Linked DNA regions of Homo sapiens: region 2 is linked to region 1. The links come from fine-mapping of genetic effects on gene expression. Tissue or cell type: whole blood. Region 1 holds a variant in brackets; the other region holds the start of a gene. All regions are shown on one strand. Distances are from middle to middle.

What was found. PIP is the estimated chance that this variant, and not a neighbour inherited with it, causes the effect.
Region 2: NIPSNAP3A starts here. The variant in region 1 is fine-mapped to the expression of NIPSNAP3A in whole blood (TOPMed, PIP above 0.99).

Annotation. Positions count from the first base shown.
Region 1 is chr9:104,782,571-104,787,775 of GRCh38, reverse strand. ABCA1 (ATP binding cassette subfamily A member 1) reads left to right here. Exons shown (of 50, transcript NM_005502.4): 47 at 800-903; 48 at 1,386-1,478; 49 at 2,137-2,380; 50 at 3,321-5,205. The coding sequence ends at 3,461. It also overlaps a transcript of NIPSNAP3B not described here. Among named protein-coding and RNA genes, the nearest start is that of NIPSNAP3B, 21 kb to the right of the region's middle. The variant T/C (reference allele first, on the strand shown) is at 3,156.
Region 2 is chr9:104,745,800-104,750,909 of GRCh38, reverse strand. NIPSNAP3A (nipsnap homolog 3A) reads right to left here and starts at 3,227. Exons shown (of 6, transcript NM_015469.3): 1 at 3,058-3,227. The coding sequence starts at 3,117. LOC107987105 (a long non-coding RNA gene) reads left to right here and starts at 3,271. Exons shown (of 5, transcript XR_007061705.1): 1 at 3,271-3,461. RefSeq lists an enhancer at 2,664-2,823 and a silencer at 3,244-3,333.

The sequences.
Region 1 (5,205 bases):
AGCTTCTCCCTTGGCACACACTGGGGTGGCTGTACCATGCCTGCAGATGCTCCCAAATAGAGGCACTCCAAGCACTTTGTTTCTTAGCGTGATTGAGGCTGGATATGTGATTTGATCTTTCTCTGGAACATTCTTTCTAATCATCTTTGTGTTCATTCCCTGAAAATGAAGAGTGTGGACACAGCTTTAAAATCCCCAAGGTAGCAACTAGGTCATAGTTCCTTACACACGGATAGATGAAAAACAGATCAGACTGGGAAGTGGCCCTTGACCTTTTTTCTTCTGTAGATAAGAGCATTGATGTTATTACGGGAAGAAGCCTTTGAGGCTTTTATGTATTCCACCTCGGTCTGGAATTTGTTTCTGTAAGGCTAACAGTTGCAATATACTAGGGTAATCTGAGTGAGCTGGAATTAAAAAAAAAAAGGAATTTCACCCCAATCTTATACTGACTTCAATAGAGGTTTCAGACAAAAAGTTGTTTTGTATATACTTATCAGTCATGAAAAGATAATTACAACTAAATGGCCTTTTTCCTTCCCTATTTATTTGGAGAAATTTAATTACATAAAAAAGTACTCAGAATATTTGAGTTTCCTGCATCAATAAGACATTTATAATAATGACCTTGTTTACAAATGAATTTGAAAGTTACTCTAATTCTTTGATTCATCAAGAAATAACTAGAATGGCAAGTTAAAATTTAAGCTGTTTCAAAGATGCTTCTGCATTTAAAAACAAATTTATCTTTGATTTTTTTTCCCCCCAGCAAATAAGACTTATTTTATTCTAATTACAGGATGAACCCACCACAGGCATGGATCCCAAAGCCCGGCGGTTCTTGTGGAATTGTGCCCTAAGTGTTGTCAAGGAGGGGAGATCAGTAGTGCTTACATCTCATAGGTCCGTAGTAAAGTCTTGGGTTCCTCACTGTGGGATGTTTTAACTTTCCAAGTAGAATATGCGATCATTTTGTAAAAATTAGAAAATACAGAAAAGCAAAGAGTAAAACAATTATTACCTGAAATTATATATGCATATTCTTACAAAAATGCAAGCCCAGTATAAATACTGCTCTTTTTCACTTAATATATTGTAAACATTATTCCAAGTCAGTGCATTTAGGTGTCATTTCTTATAGCTGGATAGTATTCCATTAGGATATACTCTTATTTAACTATTCCCCCTTTTGTAGACATTTGGATTATTTCCAACTTGTTCACAATTGTAAACACCACTACACTGAACAGCATCATCCCTATATCCACATGTACTTGTAACAGAATACAATTCCCTAGGAAGCTGGAATGCTGGAAGTCATGGTGATGTTCTCATGGTTACAGAGAATCTCTCTAAAACTAAAACCTCTTTCTGTTTTACCGCAGTATGGAAGAATGTGAAGCTCTTTGCACTAGGATGGCAATCATGGTCAATGGAAGGTTCAGGTGCCTTGGCAGTGTCCAGCATCTAAAAAATAGGTAATAAAGATAATTTCTTTGGGATAGTGCCTAGTGAGAAGGCTTGATATTTATTCTTTTGTGAGTATATAAATGGTGCCTCTAACATAAAGGGAAATAAAACTGAGCAAAACAGTATAGTGGAAAGAATGAGGGCTTTGAAGTCCGAACTGCATTCAAATTCTGTCTTTACCATTTACTGGTTCTGTGACTCTTGGGCAAGTGACTTAACTACTGTAAGAGTTAGTTTCCCTGGAAGATCTACCTCCTAGCTTTGTGCTATAGATGAAATGAAAAAAATTTACATGTGCCAGTACTGGTGAGAGCGCAAGCTTTGGAGTCAAACACAAATGGGTTTGCATCCTGGCCCTACCAATTATGAGCTCTGAGCCATGGGCAAGTGACTAACTCCCTGGGCCTCAGTTTCTCTGTAACATCTGTCAGACTTCATGGGTCCAGGTGAGGATTAAAGGAGATCATGTATTTACAGCACATGGCATGGTGCTTCACATAAAATAAGTATTTAGTAAATGATAACTGGTTCCTTCTCTCAGAAACTTATTTCTGGGCCTGCCAGGGGCCGCCCTTTTTCATGGCACAAGTTGGGTTCCCAGGGTTCAGTATTCTTTTAAATAGTTTTCTGGAGATCCTCCATTTGGGTATTTTTTCCTGCTTTCAGGTTTGGAGATGGTTATACAATAGTTGTACGAATAGCAGGGTCCAACCCGGACCTGAAGCCTGTCCAGGATTTCTTTGGACTTGCATTTCCTGGAAGTGTTCTAAAAGAGAAACACCGGAACATGCTACAATACCAGCTTCCATCTTCATTATCTTCTCTGGCCAGGATATTCAGCATCCTCTCCCAGAGCAAAAAGCGACTCCACATAGAAGACTACTCTGTTTCTCAGACAACACTTGACCAAGTAAGCTTTGAGTGTCAAAACAGATTTACTTCTCAGGGTGTGGATTCCTGCCCCGACACTCCCGCCCATAGGTCCAAGAGCAGTTTGTATCTTGAATTGGTGCTTGAATTCCTGATCTACTATTCCTAGCTATGCTTTTTACTAAACCTCTCTGAACCTGAAAAGGGAGATGATGCCTATGTACTCTATAGGATTATTGTGAGAATTTACTGTAATAATAACCATAAAAACTACCATTTAGTGAGCACCTACCATGGGCCAGGCATTTTACTTGGTGCCTAATCCTATTTAAATTAGATAAAAAAGTACCAAATAGGTCCTGACACTTAAGAAGTACTCAGTAAATATTTTCTTCCCTCTTCCCTTTAATCAAGACCGTATGTGCCAAAGTAAATGGATGACTGAGCAGTTGGTGATGTAGGGGTGGGGGGCGATATAGAAAGTCAGTTTTTGGCCGGGCGTGGTGGCTCATGCCTGTAATCCCAGCACTTTGGGAGGCTGAGGAGCAGGCAGATCATGAGGTCAGGAGATCCAGATAATCCTGGCCAACAGGGTGAAACCCCGTCTCTACTAAAAATACAAAAATTAGCTGGGCATGGTGGTGCGCACTTGTAGTCCCAGCTACTTGCGAGGCTGAGGCAGGAGAATTGCTCGAACCCAGGAGGTGGAGGTTACAGTGAGCCAAGGTCTCGCCACTGCACTCCAGCCTGGGGACAGAGCAAGACCCCATTTCAAGGGGGGAAAAAAAGTCTATTTTTAAGTTGTTATTGCTTTT[T/C]TCAAGTATTCTTCCCTCCTTCACACACAGTTTTCTAGTTAATCCATTTATGTAATTCTGTATGCTCCTACTTGACCTAATTTCAACATCTGGAAAAATAGAACTAGAATAAAGAATGAGCAAGTTGAGTGGTATTTATAAAGGTCCATCTTAATCTTTTAACAGGTATTTGTGAACTTTGCCAAGGACCAAAGTGATGATGACCACTTAAAAGACCTCTCATTACACAAAAACCAGACAGTAGTGGACGTTGCAGTTCTCACATCTTTTCTACAGGATGAGAAAGTGAAAGAAAGCTATGTATGAAGAATCCTGTTCATACGGGGTGGCTGAAAGTAAAGAGGAACTAGACTTTCCTTTGCACCATGTGAAGTGTTGTGGAGAAAAGAGCCAGAAGTTGATGTGGGAAGAAGTAAACTGGATACTGTACTGATACTATTCAATGCAATGCAATTCAATGCAATGAAAACAAAATTCCATTACAGGGGCAGTGCCTTTGTAGCCTATGTCTTGTATGGCTCTCAAGTGAAAGACTTGAATTTAGTTTTTTACCTATACCTATGTGAAACTCTATTATGGAACCCAATGGACATATGGGTTTGAACTCACACTTTTTTTTTTTTTTTTGTTCCTGTGTATTCTCATTGGGGTTGCAACAATAATTCATCAAGTAATCATGGCCAGCGATTATTGATCAAAATCAAAAGGTAATGCACATCCTCATTCACTAAGCCATGCCATGCCCAGGAGACTGGTTTCCCGGTGACACATCCATTGCTGGCAATGAGTGTGCCAGAGTTATTAGTGCCAAGTTTTTCAGAAAGTTTGAAGCACCATGGTGTGTCATGCTCACTTTTGTGAAAGCTGCTCTGCTCAGAGTCTATCAACATTGAATATCAGTTGACAGAATGGTGCCATGCGTGGCTAACATCCTGCTTTGATTCCCTCTGATAAGCTGTTCTGGTGGCAGTAACATGCAACAAAAATGTGGGTGTCTCCAGGCACGGGAAACTTGGTTCCATTGTTATATTGTCCTATGCTTCGAGCCATGGGTCTACAGGGTCATCCTTATGAGACTCTTAAATATACTTAGATCCTGGTAAGAGGCAAAGAATCAACAGCCAAACTGCTGGGGCTGCAAGCTGCTGAAGCCAGGGCATGGGATTAAAGAGATTGTGCGTTCAAACCTAGGGAAGCCTGTGCCCATTTGTCCTGACTGTCTGCTAACATGGTACACTGCATCTCAAGATGTTTATCTGACACAAGTGTATTATTTCTGGCTTTTTGAATTAATCTAGAAAATGAAAAGATGGAGTTGTATTTTGACAAAAATGTTTGTACTTTTTAATGTTATTTGGAATTTTAAGTTCTATCAGTGACTTCTGAATCCTTAGAATGGCCTCTTTGTAGAACCCTGTGGTATAGAGGAGTATGGCCACTGCCCCACTATTTTTATTTTCTTATGTAAGTTTGCATATCAGTCATGACTAGTGCCTAGAAAGCAATGTGATGGTCAGGATCTCATGACATTATATTTGAGTTTCTTTCAGATCATTTAGGATACTCTTAATCTCACTTCATCAATCAAATATTTTTTGAGTGTATGCTGTAGCTGAAAGAGTATGTACGTACGTATAAGACTAGAGAGATATTAAGTCTCAGTACACTTCCTGTGCCATGTTATTCAGCTCACTGGTTTACAAATATAGGTTGTCTTGTGGTTGTAGGAGCCCACTGTAACAATACTGGGCAGCCTTTTTTTTTTTTTTTTTAATTGCAACAATGCAAAAGCCAAGAAAGTATAAGGGTCACAAGTCTAAACAATGAATTCTTCAACAGGGAAAACAGCTAGCTTGAAAACTTGCTGAAAAACACAACTTGTGTTTATGGCATTTAGTACCTTCAAATAATTGGCTTTGCAGATATTGGATACCCCATTAAATCTGACAGTCTCAAATTTTTCATCTCTTCAATCACTAGTCAAGAAAAATATAAAAACAACAAATACTTCCATATGGAGCATTTTTCAGAGTTTTCTAACCCAGTCTTA
Region 2 (5,110 bases), 37 kb after region 1:
ATTATATTGTGTTAAAACCTAATCTGAATCTGGTACAAGGGACACTCATAGACTCATTACTCATGTTTGTACTTCTGTTGTCAATTCTCAATATGTTACTGATGGAGGGTGTCCAGGTTCTTGGTGTTTGAACAAAGAACTGGACAAAATGCACAAAGCAAGGAAAGAATGAAGTAACAAAAGCAGAGATCTATTGAAAATGAAAGCACACTCCACAGGGTAGGAGTGGGCCTGAGCAAGTGGCTCAAGGGCCCTGGTTACAGAATTTTCTAGGGTTTCAGTACCCTCTAGAGGTGTCCCATTGGCTATGTGGTGTAAGCCGTATATAAATGAAGAGGATGAAGTAAAGTTGCAAAGTCATTTACTCTGTGTACACCCTATGTAAATGAAGAGGGTATTTCTTGTCATAGCTGAAGGGTTTGATTTAGTTCTAGGAAGTCCTTAGGTTCCCTGCCTCAAGACCCTATTCTCCTGCTTCACATATACATTTGTTTACATAGAGGTGTCAATAAAGACAACTACTCTTAAATATGCTGAGTGTGTAGTTACTGTTTCCTAGTGGGGGTTCACTGTCACCTTTAGCCACTTTTTCAGAAATTGCTCATAAGAAGGCGCTGAGATCTTAATGATACTTCTTTATCCAAGAACTACAATTAGGATTCTAACAAATTTACAAAAGTTTTCCTATTAGCCAATATTGCATCTTTAGTCAAGAGCATACGTGTTACAGTTATGCACATCAAAGAACTTTATTAACTACGCACGTAACTTTTGGCAGGCATAATGAAAAAAATGTTTACTAGAAGAAAACTCTTTTAGGTTCTTGAAAAAAATGGAAATTACAGTTCAGGTCAAAGTATTTCCTAATTCAATGAAGTAAACCACTGACCAAAATTAGGACTGGAATGTAACTAATGCAATAAAAAGCTCTGACCTATCCAATTGCATTGTAATATAATGGTAGAACATGAATGCTGAGAAAAGAAAATTCAGAGTCAAAATTTTCTTATTAGTTTCTAATTACAGATGCAATGTGAACAACATTTAATGAATCCACTTATACCACATTGATGAAAATATCACTTAAGAACCATTAATTCCTTTTGTAATAGTCATACACGCACTGTAAATTTCTAATTTGTGTTCTGGTTGAACTTTCTGTAAGAAATACCTCGCCTAAGATTATCCTCTATGTAGGTATCTATGTGTATATATGTATACACATACACACACACATACGCACACACACATATATATATGCACTCATGGTATACACACAGGCATTCGTGATATTCTTATAAATCCATCTTACTTAAGTTTGAATAGCATGTGCCATTTCCTTAAGTTGATTACACCAGAATAATCTGTGAAGACAGTTTTGATACCTACAAAGCTATGGACAAATTAGGGCTTATACTGACTAGCCAGTATGTCTGTCTGAAAGCAGTAGGCTTTTGCTCCGACATATTTTTGTTTACAAAATACAAAATTATGTAACTGTGTATGATAAGGCTTAATGATAATTATCTAGAGTTAATTCTATTCGTGTGTGACTTATATTCTTATTGCTCAAATGACTAAGCCTACCAACAAAAACAGCTGCAGCTGCCCCTGCCTTTTGTGGACACTCTTTTTGTGCTTTTAAACCAAACTCTAGTAACAATGTTGGTCAAGAAGCAAGTGCCTAGTATCCATAATTTCAAAATTATTATAATAAAATATATCAGGAGATAGGCCAATGGGGCATTTGTGACAAATGGATTTCAGGTTGATTCGAGGAATTTGTATTTGGAGGATAAAATAGTTGATCAAAGGTACACATTTTTACAATTTTGGGCAGTATTAATATACAGTAGGGAACCTACAGTGAGAGAGGGAGAGAGATGTGGACAGGTGGTGCCAGAGAAGGAAGACTGCAGGGGAGCCGGGTATGGTGGGGGAGCCGGATGGGAGTTAAGAATTTTGTTGCAGGGATGACTTTTAGCTGCTAGGGCAGAAATCATGAGTCGTCCATCCTCCCTTATCTCCAAGTTAGGGATCATTCCCACCAGCAACGACCTCCACTTCACTTAAAAGAGAACAACTGATGGACATTTCTAAAAACTTAAAGTTTGGAATCATGCCATAAGGACGTCATTCCTGGCCCTGCCCCACTGGAGAATCATTAGGGTAAAAACTGCATTGTTAACCCGGGGTGAATGGACATGAGCTGCTCTTCTTTAGTGCTCCTCAGTCTGTCTCTAGGACAGGTTAATCCCCTTCCCATCCTGCCCCTTCAGAAAGGAGTAAAGTCCTAAACATCAAAAGGAAAAGAAATTTCTAGGTTGAAGCCACAGAATAGGCCACTCCCGAAAGTTAGGGCAGAATCACAAGCTCCATTTTGTCCATTTCTCATCTAAGGTTAAAAGAGTCTGTCTGTCATCGTCCGGTTTGATAGGAGGCTCCGGTCCCGCCTGGTTGGGGGAGCGACCACACGAAGCGCGGGTGGCGGGCAGGGTCCAGCCCCACCGGGACCCTGGGCCTCCTCTTCAAGGGTCTCCGCGAAATGCTCGGAAGTTGTGTGCTTCATTTAAAAGGGGGAGGCCGGTTCCGTGGCAAGCGGCTGGTTGACAATTCCCTCCTTCAACCTGATGTCTAGAGAGGGCGGTGGCTTGGAAAGCTACGACTCCACCCGCGGCTCCACAGCGCCAGGTGACAACATGGGAGCGCTCGCTGGGCCGCAGCCGCGACATAGCTGGGCAGCAAAAACGAAACAGCCGGCGCCATGGGAGTGTCCCGGTGGGTGTGGCATCCAGGCTAGAAAAGCCTTCTGACCACCACTGCCCGCGAGACGACCCCGGCTGGGGGTATTCCCCTAGCAGCGGCCTCCTCCTCACGCGCGTTCCGGGTACCCCTGTCTTGGGGTTCCGGGGCTCACGCTAGAACCTCACCGGGGCCCCAGGTCTGGGCGCGCGTGGCGGAGAGCGCATGCGCATTGCTCGCACGTACCCGGAACACTCCCCGCCCCGCCCCTCCCCTCCCGTCGGGTGAAGGCTTGGGTACCCCCGTGGCCGGTACCTGAGGCGCCAGCGTCCGTGAGGCCAGCGCCCGAGTCAGGGCGCTTCTGAGGACGAGCATGGCGCGGCTTCGGCGCTGAGAAAAGCAGCCAGCCGTGTCCTTTCTGAGACTCCTCTGAAGGTTTCCCGAGTGGAAAGGAGCGGCTCCTGGATCATTGGCAGACGCAGGCTGGGGCGGGGCTCGGCGGGGTCAGCTCCACCCCGGCGCGGGAGGCGCGGCGGGTCCCGTAGCTTGGTGTCTTTCTCTGCTGTGCTGAGCGTTGGTTCCCCCTTGGTTTCCTGAAACGTTCTTACCCCAAACGTTAGAGGTGACGTTAGGATTAACTGAAGGCTCGGATCGTTCCTGCTTCAACTTTCTGGGCCCTCACTCACCTCATTCGCTCCAGTGCTCAGTTGTGTAGATTGGTAAATGTGCAGGGGTTGTGGGTGTGTTGACCATGGGGAAAGAAGGAGAGGTGTTGAGTGCGTGCATGTGCAGTGCTTTGTATTTAAAATCGTGGAGGTTTTTTCCGAGTTAAGTTTTAGATGTTGTGATAGACGTGTATTTGAGCCTGACCTCTCTGCAATGAATGTGTTCTCCATCTTAGAAGGCTCCTAATTAAGATTTAGATTAAATTTTCCACGAGCTCAGAGAAATGGCAGCATCGAGCCTGAAATGAAAAAGTCAAAGTTAAACATACCCTGGTCTAGTCCTCCCAGTCCGGGAGTGTTGGTTCCCAGAGTAACCACCTTCAACATTTCAAGCTGTTTCATTTAATGCTTGTTTCTGTATTTTTAAGTAAGTAGTGTTTTCTGCTGTTTATTGCATTTTCAGTTATGGATAGTATGTGTTGACTTCCTTCTGTGGCAGATGAGGATTTATGTCTCATAGATGCCACTGCCCCCAAATTCACTTGTCTTCCTGCATCTAATAATGCTTATGTTAATTTACAGTAATTAATTACACTATTAATTTACAGTAATCTATATTAATGTTTACATTATTCTTGCTAATAATTACATTATTGTAAACATTAATGTAATATTGCTTACATCATGAGGACTAGGGAGGGATTGCAGGGCCATGACCTGGGTTGTATTGGTTGTGCCTTGTGGAAGAGCTTTGGAATTGTCTGTTCAAAGGAAGGGAGACTTTTTAAAATTAGTTATTTCGGAAGGGTTGCCTCAGTTTTTCTAGAAGAGAGACATCTATTTGTAACCATGCAAGACTAAAAAAATCATTTGTATCAGGACTGGATCTATATGAGTAAATTATTTTCTTAGACCTTTTTTTTTAAACCCTGTAATTGCCAATCCATTTACTTATTCAACAGATATTTACTAAATTCCTTCCATGTTCCAGGCACTTTTCCAGAAACTGGGGTACAGAATTGAGCAAAATTCAAAGTCCCGTCCTCTTGGAACATCCAGGATGGAGGAAACAGATAAAAAAAGGAAGAGTAAATATATCAGGGATTGTCAAATAATATAAAGAAAAATAAAGTAAGATACGAATAAAGGTGCTAGTGGAATTCTAAAAGTGGTCAGGATTCTAGCTATTGACTTGGATATTTAGGATTTAGGTTTCTTCATACCACTCCCTCAAAATACACTTTCCTTCCTGCGTTTATTGATGTTTACATTAAAAATATATTTTGGAGTGAGAAAAACATGTTAAAAGCACTGTAAGCACAGGTGAATCTCTTCAAATAGTGGGCTTCACTGTGAGGTGATCTGACCTGGGTATTTCACTGAAGGCTGTATCCCCTCCCCCCAAACTGTTATCTGCAAGTTATTTATCTGTGTAGTCAGTGTTAGGGAAGGGAAACTTCCAGTATCTTATCTGTGTGAGAAAAGCCTTGCTGCCAGTTTCCTGAGGCTGAGGAGGGAAGAAGGCCAGAACACTCAGCATTTGGTAGTATCTTTCAATAATATATTAATTAGGGTAGATTAAATAGCTCTTGTAAATCAACACTCAAAAAAGTGTATTATTACTCAAACACTATAGGAGTTTATTTTTTATAAGAATACAAAGTGGGTTTTTCTAGTTGGCAGGTAGCTCTTCTATACTTAGT